2 separate regions of the Homo sapiens genome follow, and region 1 is linked to region 2. A link means that fine-mapping ties the variant in region 2 to the expression of a gene that starts in the linked region. Tissue or cell type: thyroid. Region 2 holds a variant in brackets; the other region holds the start of a gene. All regions are shown on one strand. Distances are from middle to middle.

What was found. PIP is the estimated chance that this variant, and not a neighbour inherited with it, causes the effect.
Region 1: it holds the start of FAM78B, and the variant in region 2 is fine-mapped to the expression of FAM78B in thyroid (GTEx, PIP 0.98).

Annotation. Positions count from the first base shown.
Region 1 is chr1:166,163,567-166,171,750 of GRCh38, reverse strand. It overlaps FAM78B (family with sequence similarity 78 member B), which reads left to right and starts at 4,750. Exons shown (of 2, transcript NM_001017961.5): 1 at 4,750-5,765. The coding sequence starts at 5,503. LOC112268276 (a long non-coding RNA gene) reads right to left here and starts at 5,874. Exons shown (of 3, transcript XR_002958633.2): 1 at 5,697-5,874. RefSeq lists enhancers at 1,496-1,575, 5,490-5,539, 5,640-5,809, 4,981-5,883 and silencers at 2,416-2,475, 4,510-4,999, 5,040-5,099.
Region 2 is chr1:166,195,382-166,203,565 of GRCh38, reverse strand. The region is part of intron 1 of LOC112268276 (a long non-coding RNA gene); the gene reads right to left. Among named protein-coding and RNA genes, the nearest start is that of FAM78B, 32 kb to the right of the region's middle. The variant T/C (reference allele first, on the strand shown) is at 3,344.

The DNA.
Region 1 (8,184 bases), 32 kb after region 2:
TGAGGGAGTTCAGGAAGAAGAGGGGAGACCCTTAGGAAGTATGACCCTGGAAAATGAGGAAAGCAAGAGGAGTCAGAGAAGCTAAGAGAAGAATCAGGATTTGCAGAATCACGGGATTAAAAGTAGTTTTCTTTCAAGAGTGCCAAATCTGACAGATCAGGACAGAGAAAAGGACTTTGAAAGCAGCAGAGATAGGCACAGCAGACCTACAACAGAATAGCTGAGGAACCAAGGTATCCTTCTTCATAGTTTCTGTGGCCTAATCTAATGCAAGGCTAGTGGAAAAAGCTTGATAAATATTGACTACTTGAACCACACAATAGCTGCCACATCTTGGGCTGAATGACTTCTGCAAAGTGCCTGAGTCCCTTGCCATATTCCACTCCATGTTGAGTTTCTTAGCCTGTTCTAGAAGAGAAATTAGTAACCCTGGCTCTGAAGTAGTGGTAGGGAGAGCTCACAATCAAGAAGGAGCTGTTTCCTCAATCCTGCAGTCTTGGGCCTGAGGCTAACCTCTTGCCTGTCTTTGGGCCATCTAAGTGAGACGGAAATCCATGTCTGTTTTTAACAGCTCCAGAGGCAATTCCTCAACATCTCTTGGTAGTCTGTTCTATAGTCTCTGAAAACCCTTGCCAAGGTCAACTAGAAAATAGGCCCTTGTGACCCAGAGTTTCTAAAAAGCTCACTTGACAAATTGAGTAATGAGTCAATCAAGAGGAAAAATAAAGTCAGAGATCACCCTGCTTCTGGAAGGACCGAGTCATCTACAGCTAAAGGAGTGGATTGTAAAGGGGACACAGAGGCCAACATCCTGGAGAGTGCACAGCACAGCTCTAACTCAGGGAACTGAGGAGCTCTGTCATGCCCAAGAACATCAGAAGCTTGAAGTACAAAGGATCATTTGTTCTGTGCCCTGAGAATGAACTCCAATGAAGTTATTCACAAGGAATGATTGTTGTCAAGGTCTTGTCATTGGAGCTTTCCCATTTTCGTGGTGTCTAGAACTGATAACCCTTGAGATCATGTATAGTGCTCGAAGACAAAGGGCATCACTTAACATCAAGGAGCCACATTAAGAAAAGAGTGGGGGGACAAAGAGGTACAGTGCAGAAAGAATTAGAATAAAAACATATGCTTGCTGCAGGTATTGAGACAGAGCTTATAGGGAAGCTTATAGGGAATGTCAAGGGTCCATGTCTGTGAATCATGTTACATTTTATTGGCATTCTACTAAATATGATGTATGGGAAATGTTGTATTGGATTTTTAAGAATACTTTTAGTCATTCAAATGTTTATTGAGCAGCACCTAGGTGCCACGCACTAGGCTGGGCAACAGGGCACGATGGTGCATTCTCTTGAGGAGTGAACAGCTTATTGGGAGAGACAAGTGTGAGCAAGGAACTGTGAAACAGCTTTAAAGGTGTTAATAGAAGCAAGGGACTTACCATGAGGAGACAGAAAGAGAAACTTAGAAGAGCAGCACAGAGAAACTGTTGCAAATTCTGGGGATTTCATTTGAGCTACAGATAGCCCTGCATTGGCATTTGCAGACTGAATATGCATGAATGATAAAAACCCCCAGTGAGTAATCCAAAAGGTCCCTGTCATGAGGTAATTTGCTGAGACACAAATTTGAATGGGGCTGCCAGGAGGCCAGAGTGTACTTGCCAGCCACTCAGCTAGTGAATGACCACTCCTAACACTGGCATTTGTGTCCCAGTACCACTTAGCTCTCCTTACTTTCTCATCGACATCCGCACAATAATTCTCATACTGTGATCAATTTTTTCTTCACAGAGTCAGGGAAATAGGGCGTTAATAAGGTAAAGATATAAGGTAATGAAGTAAGAAGTTTATTTTAATGGCAAAATTTATTTAAGTAGCTTTAGAAATTACTTTGGCCCCATATTCATAGAACCATTAAGAGTCTAAAAAGATTCTTTACATTTTTCAGCTACACTTTACCGTACTTTATGGTGGAAATTATATGCCATGATGACATTCATGATTTTGGAGACTCACCAAGGTCATGGATGAACCCTCTGAGAATGTCAAGGGTCCAAGTCCATGAATAATGTTACATTTTATTGGCTTTACTAAATATAACAAAATCTTATTTTAAGTTTGAAAAATAAGATATTCTTCCTTATGTGATTTCCCTATATTTTGGGAAAGGCTGCCATTCCCCTCCCCGTTTATGAAGGTTTAACATGTGTCACCAGAAGACAAAGGAGTTATTTATCCACAAAACTGCAGCCTGACAAGCAACTCAAATTAAGAAACATAACTACATTCCCCAATGAAATGCTTTCCTTTTGGTCTATTGCCTGGAACCTAATAACCACTGAAACTCAAACTCTGACCCCACCCTGCCCCCCAAATACCTCCAAGAACCTCGAACTTAACATGACATCACCCACAGTCCCAAGCTGCTTCCCCTTCTATCACCTTGTTCAGTTACCAAGTAAATACATTTACCTCCTAAGTGATTCTTAAATGCAAATGCAGCCAGGCCTCTCCAGCCCCACAGCACTGCCCCAAGCTAGCCGAGGGTCAAAGTATCTGTCATCACAATATTCTGAAACGCTGCCTCCTCTATTCTCTATATGGATGCAGAGTAATTTTTCTCAAAATGCATGGCTTGCCTTCATTGGCTTCCACTGAAGTTTAAGATAAGGTCCTATCAAGAGAAGACACTGGGCCCTACTAGAGGGTGAAGGGTAGGAGGAGGCAGAGGATAAAAAAAAAATACCTATTGGGTACTATCCTCATTACCAGGGTGATAAAATAATCTGTCCAACAAACCCCTATGACATGCAATTTACCTATATAACAAACCTGCACCTGTACCTCTGAACCTAAAAGTTAAAAAAATTATTCACCAAACCCAGTGATCAAGGTTAATAACACCAGTAAAAAGTCATATTGCTATCATGTACCCCTGACATAATGCAATGAGAAGGCACTTCATCTTCATGGTATTCATCCCCCAAATCCAAAACCCTGGTCTAATCATGAGGAAACATCAGATAAATGCAAATGAGGAACAATTCTACAGAATATCTGACCAGTCCTCTTTAAAAATGTCAAGGTCATGAAAAACAGAGAAAGACTGAGAAGCTGTCACAGATTGAGAAGAATAAGGAGATGTAATGACTAAATGCAACATCATATCTTGGATTAGATTCTAGAGAAAAAAAGACATTAGTGGAAAAACTAGTAAAATCAAAATAAAGTCTGTAGTCTTAATTTTAAAAAGAAAAAAGATATGGTCTATCAACAACCAATTGATTCTTGGACAGTGATTCTGATGCCCATGGTCGACACATAACACCTTGAGAAATGCCTTGACTGTGAGTTGTTTCTCCCCCTCAGTACAGGATGAGTTCTTTCATATCTCTATGCATTTTGCATTTGCCAAATGCTGGTCCTGTACTACTCATTCACCTTTCTCTTTTCAGTGAGACTCTACAGTCTGTCAGTATTCAATTTAAATGTCACTACTTGAGCAAAGTCACACGTAAATCTCTCAGTGGCCAGAGAGCCACTGAGTGGCTCTCTGACCACTGAGGGATTTACATGTGGCCAGAGATTTACATGTCTGGCCTTCCACGGCACTGGATACACAACCCCACTAAAGCAGGTGTCACAGTTTACTATAATAACTTGTTAACAGGTTTATTTTCTCCAGTGATCCATGTGCTCTTTTTCAACTTTGAATCCCTAGTACCTAGCACTATGTTTGGCTCCTGCCAGGCAGGCAGTCAGCCTTTGCTGAATGAAAGGACCAGTGATTGAGGTCTGTGGCTACACGGTAAAATGAGAGAGACGAGTCATCAAAGGGAAAAACTGCTTTTTTGTTAACTATAAAGTGAACCAAGGTGTCAGAACAGTTAAAACAAGGATGAAGAGTGCTTTTAGATCTCAATCAATTTTTAAATTACTCGTCACACCTGTCCTAGCTAAAGACTAACTCTAGCACCTCCTGCGGCCTGTTAGTCAGTATTTCACACTTGGGCAGCAGATCCAGCAAATGTTCAATGATCGCAGAAGAAATACTTAGAAGCTATTGGCTTTGAAAATAAAAATGTAAGAAGATGCCTAGTAAAAGCATCTGCTAAATATTCTTCCTGTTTGGCACATTAGACTGCAGTATCAGACACATGACCGTGGTCATACTGTACACAATGCCCAATGTCTGCCAAAACTCTGGCATATGAGAGACTTAGTGCTGGAGTACGGAGGGATTCTTCCGGTATCCCCACTACACACAGTGGTGGAAAGAAGAGCTTCCAGAACAAACCCAGTCAGGCAAAGAGGCAAATACACTGCATTTAGTAACGCTGCTGGAGCCCGCCCTTCACCCTTTCTGAAGGTAGGATACTAAAAGGGCTCAAGCCTAAATCTAATCCAACAAGCTATATTCTGAATAACGACCAATCTCTGATAAAGCTGTTCCCCTAACCCTTCTGCTGCCCGAAACACTCACTCTACAGCCCCTACTGGGCTACCGGGTTCCCCACTGGACTCTGGACAGCGCCGCGCCCTGCTCGGCCTCACCCACCCGGTGGCGCTTGGGCCCGCCCTAGTCCCCCACCCCCACCCCAGGGCACCACCTACCAGGGCCCCGCCCCGCCTCAGCCCCACGTGCGGGGCCCCACCCCGGCGCTAGCGGCCCTTTAAACACCCCCACCCTTACACATTACCCCCCCCCCACCCGGACGGCAGCCGAATAGGGACAAAACTCATGGCGTACAGCCAGTTTCCTCCGCGGAGCACGTCCTGTGCTGCTCCAGCCGTTGGGGCTCTCCACCCCGGGCCACAGCCTCCTGGCGCCCCCCGGGCCGAGGCAGCCGGGCCGAGGAGTGTCGGTGTGGTCCGGCTACGGGGCGGGGCCGGCGGGAGCTCCGGTCGCCGCCGCCGCCGCTGCTGCCTCCGCCTGCCTCTTGGGCCGCCCGCTCGCCCGCCGCTGGGTGCGCTGCACGCGGGGGGCAGCCGTGGTGCAGAGGTTCATGCAGCGGCGGCGGCGGCGGCGGCTGCTGCTGCTGCCGCCGCGGAGGCAGACAGACCGGGCGCTGCCACCGCCGCCCTCCCCCGGCTCCATGCCGCCGCCGCTGCCGCCTCCTCCTCTCCGGCGAGGGGCGGGGGGCTCCGGCCCGGGGTGGGCACCATTCCTCGCAGCGCCGCTCCCCTCCCTGCCCTCCGCCCGGGCGCTGGAGCCGGCGAGGGCACCCGCCGCCTCCTAGGAGTGCACCCTCCGCGCGCCCTGCCGGAGCGAGGGGGCGGGCGTGGGCGGACGTCGGGGCAGCGGGGACCCCGCGCGGCTGCAAGAGGAGGGGGCTTCCCCAAGGATGCCCGGCGGCTCCCCGCTCCTAGGTGCGAGCTGAGTCTGACCGGGAGCGAGCGGCGCGTCGCCATGCCGGCGTGACGGGCGCCCCCGGCTGCCCGCGCGGGCCCCCGCGCTGCCCCACGCCGCGCCGTGCCGGCACCGGGCTGCAGGATGGGCTGTATCCAAAGCATCACCTGCAAGGCGCGGATCCGGCGCGAGAACATCGTGGTGTACGATGTGTGCGCCACCATCGACCAGTGCCCCACGCGCATCGAGGAGACCTCGCCCATCGTCCTGCGCTACAAGACCCCCTACTTCAAAGCCTCCGCCCGCGTGGTCATGCCCCCCATCCCCCGCCACGAGACCTGGGTGGTGGGCTGGATTCAGGCGTGCAATCAGATGGAGTTCTTCAACACCTACAGCGACCTGGGCATGTAAGCGACTCGCCGCGCGGCACGGGAGCGGACTCTGGGCCCCCAGCTCTGCTTGCCACCTTGACCCCCCTCCCCAGCTCCTTCCTACTGCTGTCCCCATCGTCTTTCTAAACCTTCCTCCCGCCTCCTCTCCCACCTCCCTCCTCCCTACGCTTTTGTTTCAGTGACAGGGCGGGTGTAGGGAGGCTCCTTGCGAAGGCATTTTCTCGTGGTTTGCTTCTGACTTCCCAGAAACGCGAGGAGAAAGGTGCGGGGCGGGAAGAACGCGACAAGGAGGGTTCGAGAGGCGGAGGTGGGGATGGCTGGCGAGTGCCTGGCGAGTTTCAGGGCGCCGTCTGTGCTTTGTGGGGCTCCCCGGGAAGAGTTTGGGGGAAACCATAGAGGAGTGGAGTGGAGTGCCGGGGGCGCATGGGCTGTGCCGCGCGTCCTTTGGAGAAACCGGAGCGGGCTTGGAAGAGCAGGTCCCGGGCATCCGAGCGGGAGTTGGTAGTTCTGTCCTTGCCCTCGCGACTGTTGAAGTTTCGAACCCTTGTCCCCCGGGCCAGGGAGCCCGGAGGCGTTTCCGTCTGGAACCACAAGCCGGACACAGTTGCCTCTCTGTTTCCGCGCCCCCTGGACCAGTTCTGGTGGGGAGCTGGAAGGCACCGAGTGCGTCCCGGCCAAGAAGGGCGGATAGCCTTGTGCGAGCAGCGTTCGGCTGGCGCGGCGCGGGGTGTTTCTTATGCTAAAGGAAAGGATGGATCTCTTGTCTGTCTAGGGTCCTTACTTTTTAAAACTTTCCTAATTGCGGCACTGGAAGGGATTCCCCTGGCGCCCACCGCCGAATTCTATCGGCGAGCTGGGAGCTCTCCAACTTTCAGCAGCGCCGGTTGGTGCGCGCCGGGCTTGGCTGCTGCGGTGAAGACCAAGGATCGCCGCGGCTCCTCAACCGCCAGGGGCCGCAGGCTACGGGCGGTCGCGTCCGGGACTTTTATATTTACCAAATTTTCATAACTCCGCACCCGCCTCCTTTCAGAACTAGACTCTGAGCAGGTGGCAACGACAATAGCTAAAAGGTTTAGGGCCTGCCTTCTACCTGCTGTTACAATGTAGGTCTAGAACACCCTAATTAGCCAGTCTGCAGCCTACAGGGAAACCCTTTTTCTGGAAATTCAACCTCATTTCACTTATTAATCTAAAACTCTAGAGCTCCCAAGGTTCGTCTATTTAATATGGATATGGGGTGGGGGAGTTCCCATTTTAAAAGGTCAAACCATCTTTTTAGCAGCAGTTTGCAGGCTTTTTATTGCACTCTGAGAGCATGTCAGTTAACACTAGTCATAGGCGCTAAAAGAAATTTGACAGGTCGTTGTTTTCCTTTTTTCCTCCCAAAGATTTTGCACTTTTCTCTTTAAGCACAAAAGCTTAATCCTTGAGAAAACTCAATTCCTAGTGAAGAAATGTGAGGCCCAGTTTCCAATATGCCTCAGCACACTGTATTCTTCCAGAGAAGACAGCTAGATGTGAGAAATGGGGGATATTTTATTTGGGGCGAATCATGCCATTTAAAAACTGACATACCCTCAAAAGAATGATTATATGTGAACACATGTGTCTCTTAAAACTGCTTTTTAAAATAAATCCATTGTTTCCAGCCAAGTCAGAGAAAGCCACAGGCAGGGCAAGAGCCCTTCCTCTCATTTCCCTGGCCTCACCCTGATGGCAGTGGGTTGCTGGAGGACAGCAAGTGCTCCCCACAGCAGCCTGGGGCCCCTGGTAGAGGAAGCCAGGAGTGACTGTGCAGAAGCAGCCTCACTTTTCCCAAGACTGCACAGCGGAACTCTCTGTTGCCTCAAATCTCTTATGAATAAGTAAAAGCAAATATATAAATACAGAATTATTTCCGTAAAACTTACTTTACCTTAGGAGAAGTCAAGTTGAGATATAAACAGACATGGTAGTTGAACTTCCTGGAATCTATAGGGAAGGTATGTCCTCACTGGAACCAACTTTAATGGATATGAATCAGTGACAGGATTCCTGACCCTTCCCCACTGAATCCTTGCATTTGGGATTTGGAAAGTGGTTTTGTTTTTAAACTGCCACTTTTGATATTTTAAGATTCTTGGTTTTCATGTAGATGTAGGAGAGCAAAAATAGACCCCCAATAAATCATAAAGCATATTATTATAGATTTGTGTCCACAGTCTACCTGTTTCTTCATGGTTGCAATAATTGCTATGTGTTAAAGGCCACTTTGGAGCCCAAATTTGAATGAACCAATTTCCACAAGATATTTATGCCTGGAAAATTTTGCTAGTGTAAACTTTTTAATGGGAATTCATATTGCATGAAAGTTGCTGCAGTCTATTAGTTATTATGTCTACTTTAGCCAATATCTGGATTGTAAAAAATAGCATGGAGTGATTTTTCACCTCTG
Region 2 (8,184 bases):
TCTCTGTACATATATGACATACTAAGGCAGAAAGGTATGGTGACCAGCATCATCATTTGAATCAGTACTCTTGGTTATAAGTGACAAAATCCTATTCAAACGGCTCACACAATAGAAAAGTACAGGCCCAGGCTTGTCTTTAGGCACAACTGAATCCACGTATTCAAACAATGTCAGCAGGAGTTTGTCTCTCTCCATCTCTTGGCTCTCTTTTTCTCTGTGTTGGCTTCATTCTCAGCTGGGTTCTTCTTCAGCAGTGACAAAGAGACCGGAAGATCTAGATTTAGTATTTTAGCAATCTAAAAACCCAAGAGGACAAAGAGCTTTTTTTTTTTTATTTCCTCCTAATAGTTCCTGCTAAAGTCCTAGGGTTGCCTGTCTAGTTGACCTAGGTTGTCTCTCTAGTTGACCGAGAGTTGACCGAGCTTGGGTCACATGCCTATCCCCGAACCAATCACTGGAATTCTAATTGTCCAGGCCTAGCTCCGGAGCCAGGGAAATGAGACCAGCCCTACTTGAAACACAGAAAATAAAAGCAGAGATGGGAAGGGGTGCTGCCCCAAAAGAAAATCAGGTGATATTAACAGAGATGGTAAATGAATGTGAAAAAGACCAGAAAGACAGATGTCATCATCTCTAGCTGTCTAAAATAAGGTTGAATAGAGCCACATATGATGGGCTATCAGAAAGAAAGTTATTAAGCCTTTTGCCATTATCAATGCTATGCATGTGCTTAATGATAATAGATGAGATGCAGTGCCAGTGAGCAGTGGCAGGAAGGGAGCCAGCAGGGCTGGGAGTGGAAGCCAAGTAGCAATTCATCTTACAGCGTTAAGAGTTCCCCCAAGTCGGTTTTACCAAACAAGATGCCCAAACTGACTCAGGCACTTTTCAAGTTGCAAAACTTGCTCTCAGACTCAGCAGATACATTTGAAACAATTTTATGACCAGCAGTTAAACAGGAGGAAATTAAAGGTGAAAAATCAAGGATACAGCTTCATGCATAAAACTCAGCCACACAATTAATGGAGCCCACATTAATCACACATCAGTTAGGCCTCAGTGGTTTGATAGTTATTCGTTGGCAGAAACAAACCGCATTCTGATAGGCAAAGAGGACTGATGCAAGTATAACTGAAAGACTTAAATGTAGGGTTCCTATCATTAATTAATCAAGTAATCACTCTCTTTGTGGTACTTGTGTGACATTTCGTAATTAGTTTTTCAGTGTTTCTCTCGCTCTAGCTTAGTTCTTTATTACACCCCACACTCCTTTATCTAAACGTTCCAGTGGAAGATGAGATGTGTTTTTAATAATAATAAGACCTTGTATTTGTAGATCACTTTGTACTTTATAAAATGGCTCACCGGAGTCTTCCAGCAGCCTTTGGAGATAAGCAGGACAAATATTATTCTCCCAAGTATCTACTGAAGTGTCTTGCGTGGAGTCAGACTCAAATAATTGCCATCAGAACCTGATTCTCTTGCAGGGGGATTGAAGTGCCTTCTCACTGTAATAGTGGAGCAAATGGAGCTTTGGTTCTGGGATAAGGTGCAGACAGGTGGGGCCACATCATCAGAACAGAACCACCATCAGAACTTACTCCTGAGGTCATAAGTCAGTCATGCATCACTGCAAAGGTGTTAAATATAATTGGGCTTCAAGGGAAATCTCCCTGGCTTATTAATAATAATCCTATACAGAAGAAAGTAAAGCAATAACATGGAAAACCCAAATAGTTATATTTCATAACATAATTTAAAAGTACTTTAATGATGCTTCCTGTGGTTTGGATTTCTTCATATCTCTTTGAAATGCATTATCCCATTTAGTTCTGAATCTATATAGACTGGCAATACCTGTTTCTCTATGACTCCAAAAAATATTATAGGACAGAGGCAAGGTCTTGCATTGCTAGGAGACCTCCCCTATCGTTCCTGTATTTTCAGCTCCATCTCAGAGCTGAAAATACAGTAAATGTATTCAGGAAGTGGTTCTTTGTTTTAAGTAGAAAAAATATTGCTTCACTGAATTAATGCTGGTTAGCTTTTTGCATGACTCTGAGGTCTACTGTTAGAACTACCATCCTTAAAATAATAGTTATAAAAGCAAAGGCAGCTGAATTCACTCTAAATTGTTCACTTATTCAATCAGTCTACACAATTTTTCAAGGACACAATGCCAGATTCTAAAGTGAGACAGAGTAGATAAAGATGAAATGTTACAGTCACTAACCTCAATGGCTGGACATGCAAGCTAATCATTACAGCAGCAGCTACAACAACAAATAATAATAGCATATGTTTCTGAGCACTTACTGTAGGCCAGTCACCCTGCCAAGTGCTTTTCCTGTATTGATTATCTTAATTCTTACCATAACCACTGAGGTAAGTATTATTATTAATGTCATTTTACAGATGAGTAAACTGAGGATCAAAGTGGGTAAGTGGCTTGCCCAAGTTCACATGGTCAGTTAGAGGTGGAGCTGGAAGCCAAGCTCAGACAGTCTGACTCTACACTCATACTCTTCACTCCACACCATGAATACGCTAGTCATGGCATGGATCAAGTTCAGTGGTTGCACAAGGAAAAGAAGCAGCAAAATATCCATTTTGCTGAGTTAGCTAGAAGGAGTTAGCTAAGCATCACAGGAGACTTAAAGGATTGATAACATTTTGTCCAGGGCAACTAGATTGGAAAAAGGATTTCAAGAAAAGGAAACAGCATGGCTGAAGCACAAACCAGGAGGAAGCCTGGTGTGTTTGGAGATACACAGCTAGATGTGAGTGGCTTGGGCTTTGAGCGAGGTTGGGAGGAGTGGGAGCCAAGACCAGTGAGGAAGGCAGGATATGTATCCATGTCTTCATTGTATAAGATGCCTATGTTATCATTTTCAGATATAAAACAAATCTGTCATTTAGTTTCGGCTAGTAGTTAACAGCTCTCACTGAATAACAGTGTGAACTTGACTTCAGCTTGCTGGGATCTAGTTTCCTTGATGAACTGGCTAATTTTACTGCCACTATTTAATGTCAAACATCTCTCATACAAAGACTTTAATATGTTTGTTTTGTTCTTCTTTTCAATCCTGATGGGGATGTAAAATGATAAAAATTATGTATGGAATCTAAGCTAATCAATTTAGATTCATGAATTTGAATGCACCAAAATGTATCCTAACTCAACATAATCACAAATGTGTATAAATGTAATCAATTTTAAAAGAGTGAAGGAAAATATACCAATAGTTTTAAGAATTGCCTTTAAATACTGGACAATTTTCCATATTTTCAAACTTTTCCATAATAAGCATGTGTCAATTTTAAGAATATAGAAAAAAAT[T/C]CTAGAATGGAGAGCAGACTTTTTTTTAAGTCAAAGTAATGAATGCACATAGTTCAAAAGTCAAATTTTGCCAAAGAACTAGCAACAAAAACAATAGTTTGCCTTTTGCTCTCACCTTCAGTCTTACCTTCCCAAAGTCAACCCACTAACTCAACATGTTTATTCTATAGTCACATAGAAATACTGTAGTTCTTTTGTGGTTCTATGGTGTATATGAGTTTCTAAAAGATTTAACTCATTTATATCACCTCCCATCTTTCCTCCCCAATTTCCCAATACAATTATAGCACTATATTTAGTTCCTGGTTCCTGTATTGTTTCCTTCCTTTTGAAAGTTTAAGTAATAAACATACACTATGTCTTCTTATTTTGCCAAACATAGATAGTCTCTCTTAACACTGCAGTGGGTACAAAAAGAACCCTGGTGCTCTTAGCCTTGCCCTAAGCTCTTCTACCTCCCATCTTCAGGATTGCAACCTTAGAGGATTCAAGTTGATAACATTTACATTTGGCTTGGTAATCATAATTCCATCATCAATACTTTTTCCAACAATTCATTCTAAAATACTAAAACTAATAACAGCATTTACAGTATTGTGACTATGTAAACGTTAATTCATGGAGGAGCCAAGTAGTATTCTATGAGTATAATTTCTTTCCTACACGTTTTTATTTCTCCTGATTCTAACATTATTTTTAAACTTTCCATTATATCAAGTTTTCTAGGAAGTCCCCCTTTTGCCCAGGAGACCTCTTTCCCCAGGCTCTACATCCCTCCGCTTTGACCTGGATGTTTTGTTCTGTACGTGTCATAGAAAGAGTGTGGTTGATTCCCCCATTACATTCTTAGTGAGGATTTTCCTGAACACCTTCCCTAAAATTTAATCACCCTCCCAAATACTACCTAGTCTCTCTTCTGCTTTGTCTCACCAGCACGTACGACCATATAGCATACAGATATTTTACATACTTACTTTGTCTATTGTCTGTTTTCCTAAATCTGAGCTCTGTAAAAGTTGGAAGTTTTGTCTGTTTTACTTTCTGCCTTATCATCAGTGCTTAGAACAGCGCCTCATACACAGTTGACACTGAATGGAAGAATCAAAGCTACTCCATCTCCTTTGCTAGACACTTCTGGGAATGGGCAGCTGTAGGCCACTTTGGGCAAATGGGATGTGAGGAGAGACTTGCTGGGAAGGAGAAGTCAGTACTCTCCCACTAGGTACAAACAAAAAGCATTGCTTAGGTTGCTCTGGCAGTCATCTTGACCAAGAGGAAAAGCAGCCTTTGGAGAAGCCAATACCAAGGATGGCAGAACAGAGAGACAGTGAAAGCCTGGATCTTCATTGATCTTCGAACCATTAAATCAACCTGAGAGCCCTCCCTGCCTTTTTGTTATCGTTTTCATGCCAATTTGAGTTGGATTTTCTGTTACTTTCAGTCAAAGAAGCTTACCTGTTACCTGAGTTCCACTGAGCACACGTCATCTTAGGTAGCCCTTAACTGATTTTCTGAACCTGAGTCATACTATCATGGACCCCATGTCTTTCTCCTTTGATTTACTCCCTGCTTTTACTAGAACACACACTGGATGATTTTCTAAGATATGTATTATGGAAATAATGTTTCTGAGTCATTGAATGTCTTTCAGTGTTTTAATTTCCCCCTTATACTTCGTTGATGAGTTGGGTAGATATGGGATTCTGGGTTGAAAAATGATTGTGTCTTGGAATTTTGAAAGCAGCACTCATATTGCCTTTTACCACCCACTGTTACTGATGCTATATTTGGGCGATCTAGCTTTATTCTAGGAAATAGGATAGACACATTTAGCAAATAAAAATACAGAACATCTGATTAAAATTACCTTTCAGATAAACAATGAAATATTGGGGACGTGCTTAATCTAAAAAAAAATTATTCATTGTTTATATGAACTTCAAATTTAACTGGTGTCCTATATTTTATCTGTCAACCCTACAAGGAAAGTTTTTAGTATATTCTCTTTATCCTTGATGTTCTGAAATTTCACAGTATTTTTAATTGTGAGGGTTTTAATTTTTTATTTTTTAAAAGCTCATTATATTAATGCCAAATGTGCCCCATGAAAGAGGGTATAGTTCTTGTTGACATGTTTAGTGGGTGGATCACCACAGTCTACAGGCTCCAGCCCTCTGTCAGCTTGGGTTTGAGGAACCAGAGCAAGAAAAAATATATATAAACAGTTTCATCAACTCCAGAGTTTGAAAATCTTTAGAGAAAATTCCTTTCAGAGCAGAGCCATGGGGAGATTGTAGTCTACTCCCTATAGGACCCTGTAGTCTAGTGGAATTATCTGGTTTCAAACCTGGTCACCCAACTGGCATTTCACACAAGCATCAGTGAACAACTTCAGAAAAGGGCCAAGAGTTCAGGCTAAAGAGCCTTGCTTTGTAAGTGTGAATAATCTGGACACATCCCAGATTTGCCACGTAATTGCCCTGCTGTTAACCTAGCAGAGAGATATACTATCTCCAAAGAAAGAGACAATTTGTTTGTGAGATACATATTTCCTGGGCTTATCTTTGAGTGAACTAGCTAGAAAGTAAGTGATAAGGCAGAGAGATAAGAAATAATCAATTTGGAAAGTAGGGGTAAAATCAGGCAAGGTAAAAATAGGTCAAAGAAATTAGGAGGAGAGCTGCAGAGTCAGTAGAGAGAGGAAGTTTTTTAAAATGACTTCAGCATTGACTAGACATGACCTTAGAAATAATCTAATTCAGCCCCTCATTTTACTAGTGACTATACCAAGGCTAAGAGAGTGGAAGAGACTTGCCAGAGTCATGGAACCTGTTCCCTGATTCCCAGTCCAGTGTTTATCCCACTCTATTGCTGCTGTTGCTTGGGACCTATTGCACAACAGCCCTATTTAATCATCTTGACAGCTTCTGAGAATGATAAACCTTCTCTACAATGATCTCACTCAGCTCAGGCTAGCAGCTTCACCAAATGTCCCATTAAAAGGCAAATGACTCCAGGTGGGGATTTCAGGGAGCTTGGAAAAGATACCCGTAACCAAAAATATTGCCCATACTCACCTACCTATGTGCCTAAAATTATACCTTGAAAATGTTGTTGAAATGCAAATGACTACTTTTTACATTTTGCTTCGATCTTTGTAGAGGCTTCTTAACAAAGAAGGGTTTGATGGTATGTGACACAGGACAAATGCATTTTGATTGGACAGAGGTAGAATGATTAGATGTATTAGGATCCATCAGGTACAAATGGCAGCAGGTGCCTACTTCACCATCACTATTTCATATAAGAACAAAGCAACAGATTGCTTTGTGCTCTAATCATTTTCTTGTCATCAGACTTCACTCTTGGTGTCTGATGTCACAGTAAGATATTTTAGTAGACCTGGTTTCCTTGATTACTTGAATAATTCACATTTTGTATCTGAATATAGGATGCTTTCAGCAGAATAAAGTCCCTTTAAATGGCAATTTTGATTTCAGCATCAAGAATTGCTATGTCTGGAGTCAAACTTGAAAATGTTACTTATCATCCATGAAGGTCATTGCCTTCTTGTCTAAAAGTTAAGGAAGATGAAGTTTGAAAGTTGTCCATTGGTTTTGTCAATGAAGAGAAGATTTTAACCAGAGTAGGTGTAACAAAGTAGTAAAGGCCAAATTAGACTGCTATATTTGTTGTTAGGAAGTGAACCCAGGTGAAAAAGTGATGAGATTAATGTAGACAACTTTTAAGAAGCTTGACTATGACCAAAAAGAGAAAATATTTTATTGAAATGTTTGATTGAGTATTGGTTGGCTGGTTCGTTCATTGGTTGGTTGGTTGGTTGGTTGGTTGGTTGGTTGGTTGGTTGGTTTTTAAAGGTAGGAGACACTTGAGCATTTATTTTAGCTTGGAGGGATGAATCAGGACCTCAGCTCCCTCATCTGCATATTGCAGACATGCTAACCACCATAAACAAAGAGTCTGTCTAAGATCACCTGGCCAATTGGCCAAAGTACCAGAATTAAAATTTAGGTCTTTCAACGCTTTGTTCCCTTGGGCCCATGTTGTCTCTCCATTTTGCAAATATTCTTGGTTTTCAGTGGGTCATAAGAGGATCAGGAGGTCATTTCTATACAAAAGCATTTGCAAAGAGCTGTAAAGTCCTCTTGGGCAGGGCAGGAATAAGGAAAGCAAACACTTGATGAAGTAAACACTTTCCATATGCTAGACACTAGGGTAATCACTTTACTGGTAATAAGTTATTCAAACCTCACAGCAACTGTATGAAGTAGGTAAAGTTATCTTTCTTTCACAGATAAAGAAACTGAGGCTCAAATAAATTAAGTGACTTGCCCACAATCACATGGTTAGTAAGAGCCAAAACAGAGTCTTAACCACTAGATTACACTATCTCAGGGGAATGCAGAGTAATACTGATTTAGTATCACTAATTAATAATATCTTAAATTGTCATAAGTCATTTTTTCTAAGCACAGTCATATTTACTTTCCTTTTTTGTATAATTTTACTTTCAGAGCAACCCTGTGAAACAAGTAAGGTAGAGAACACTATCCCCATCTGAGAGTAAGGAAATTAAAGCACACACTCTCTCTCTCTCCCCCCTCCCCCGCTCTCACACACATACACACAACCATTAGGGAGGGCAATGACAGAGCCTGGGCCAGCTCAGTGGCCAGATTTTCTACAGAGCTACCAAGAGCCTAAAGGGGAGAGATTCACTCCTCTGCTGTCTTTCCCAAGTAGCAACTGGTGTCCAGGGTTGAGAAAATAAACCCATTCCATCAAAATGCCAGAATATAGGCCCTTGAGCTACTGTATCA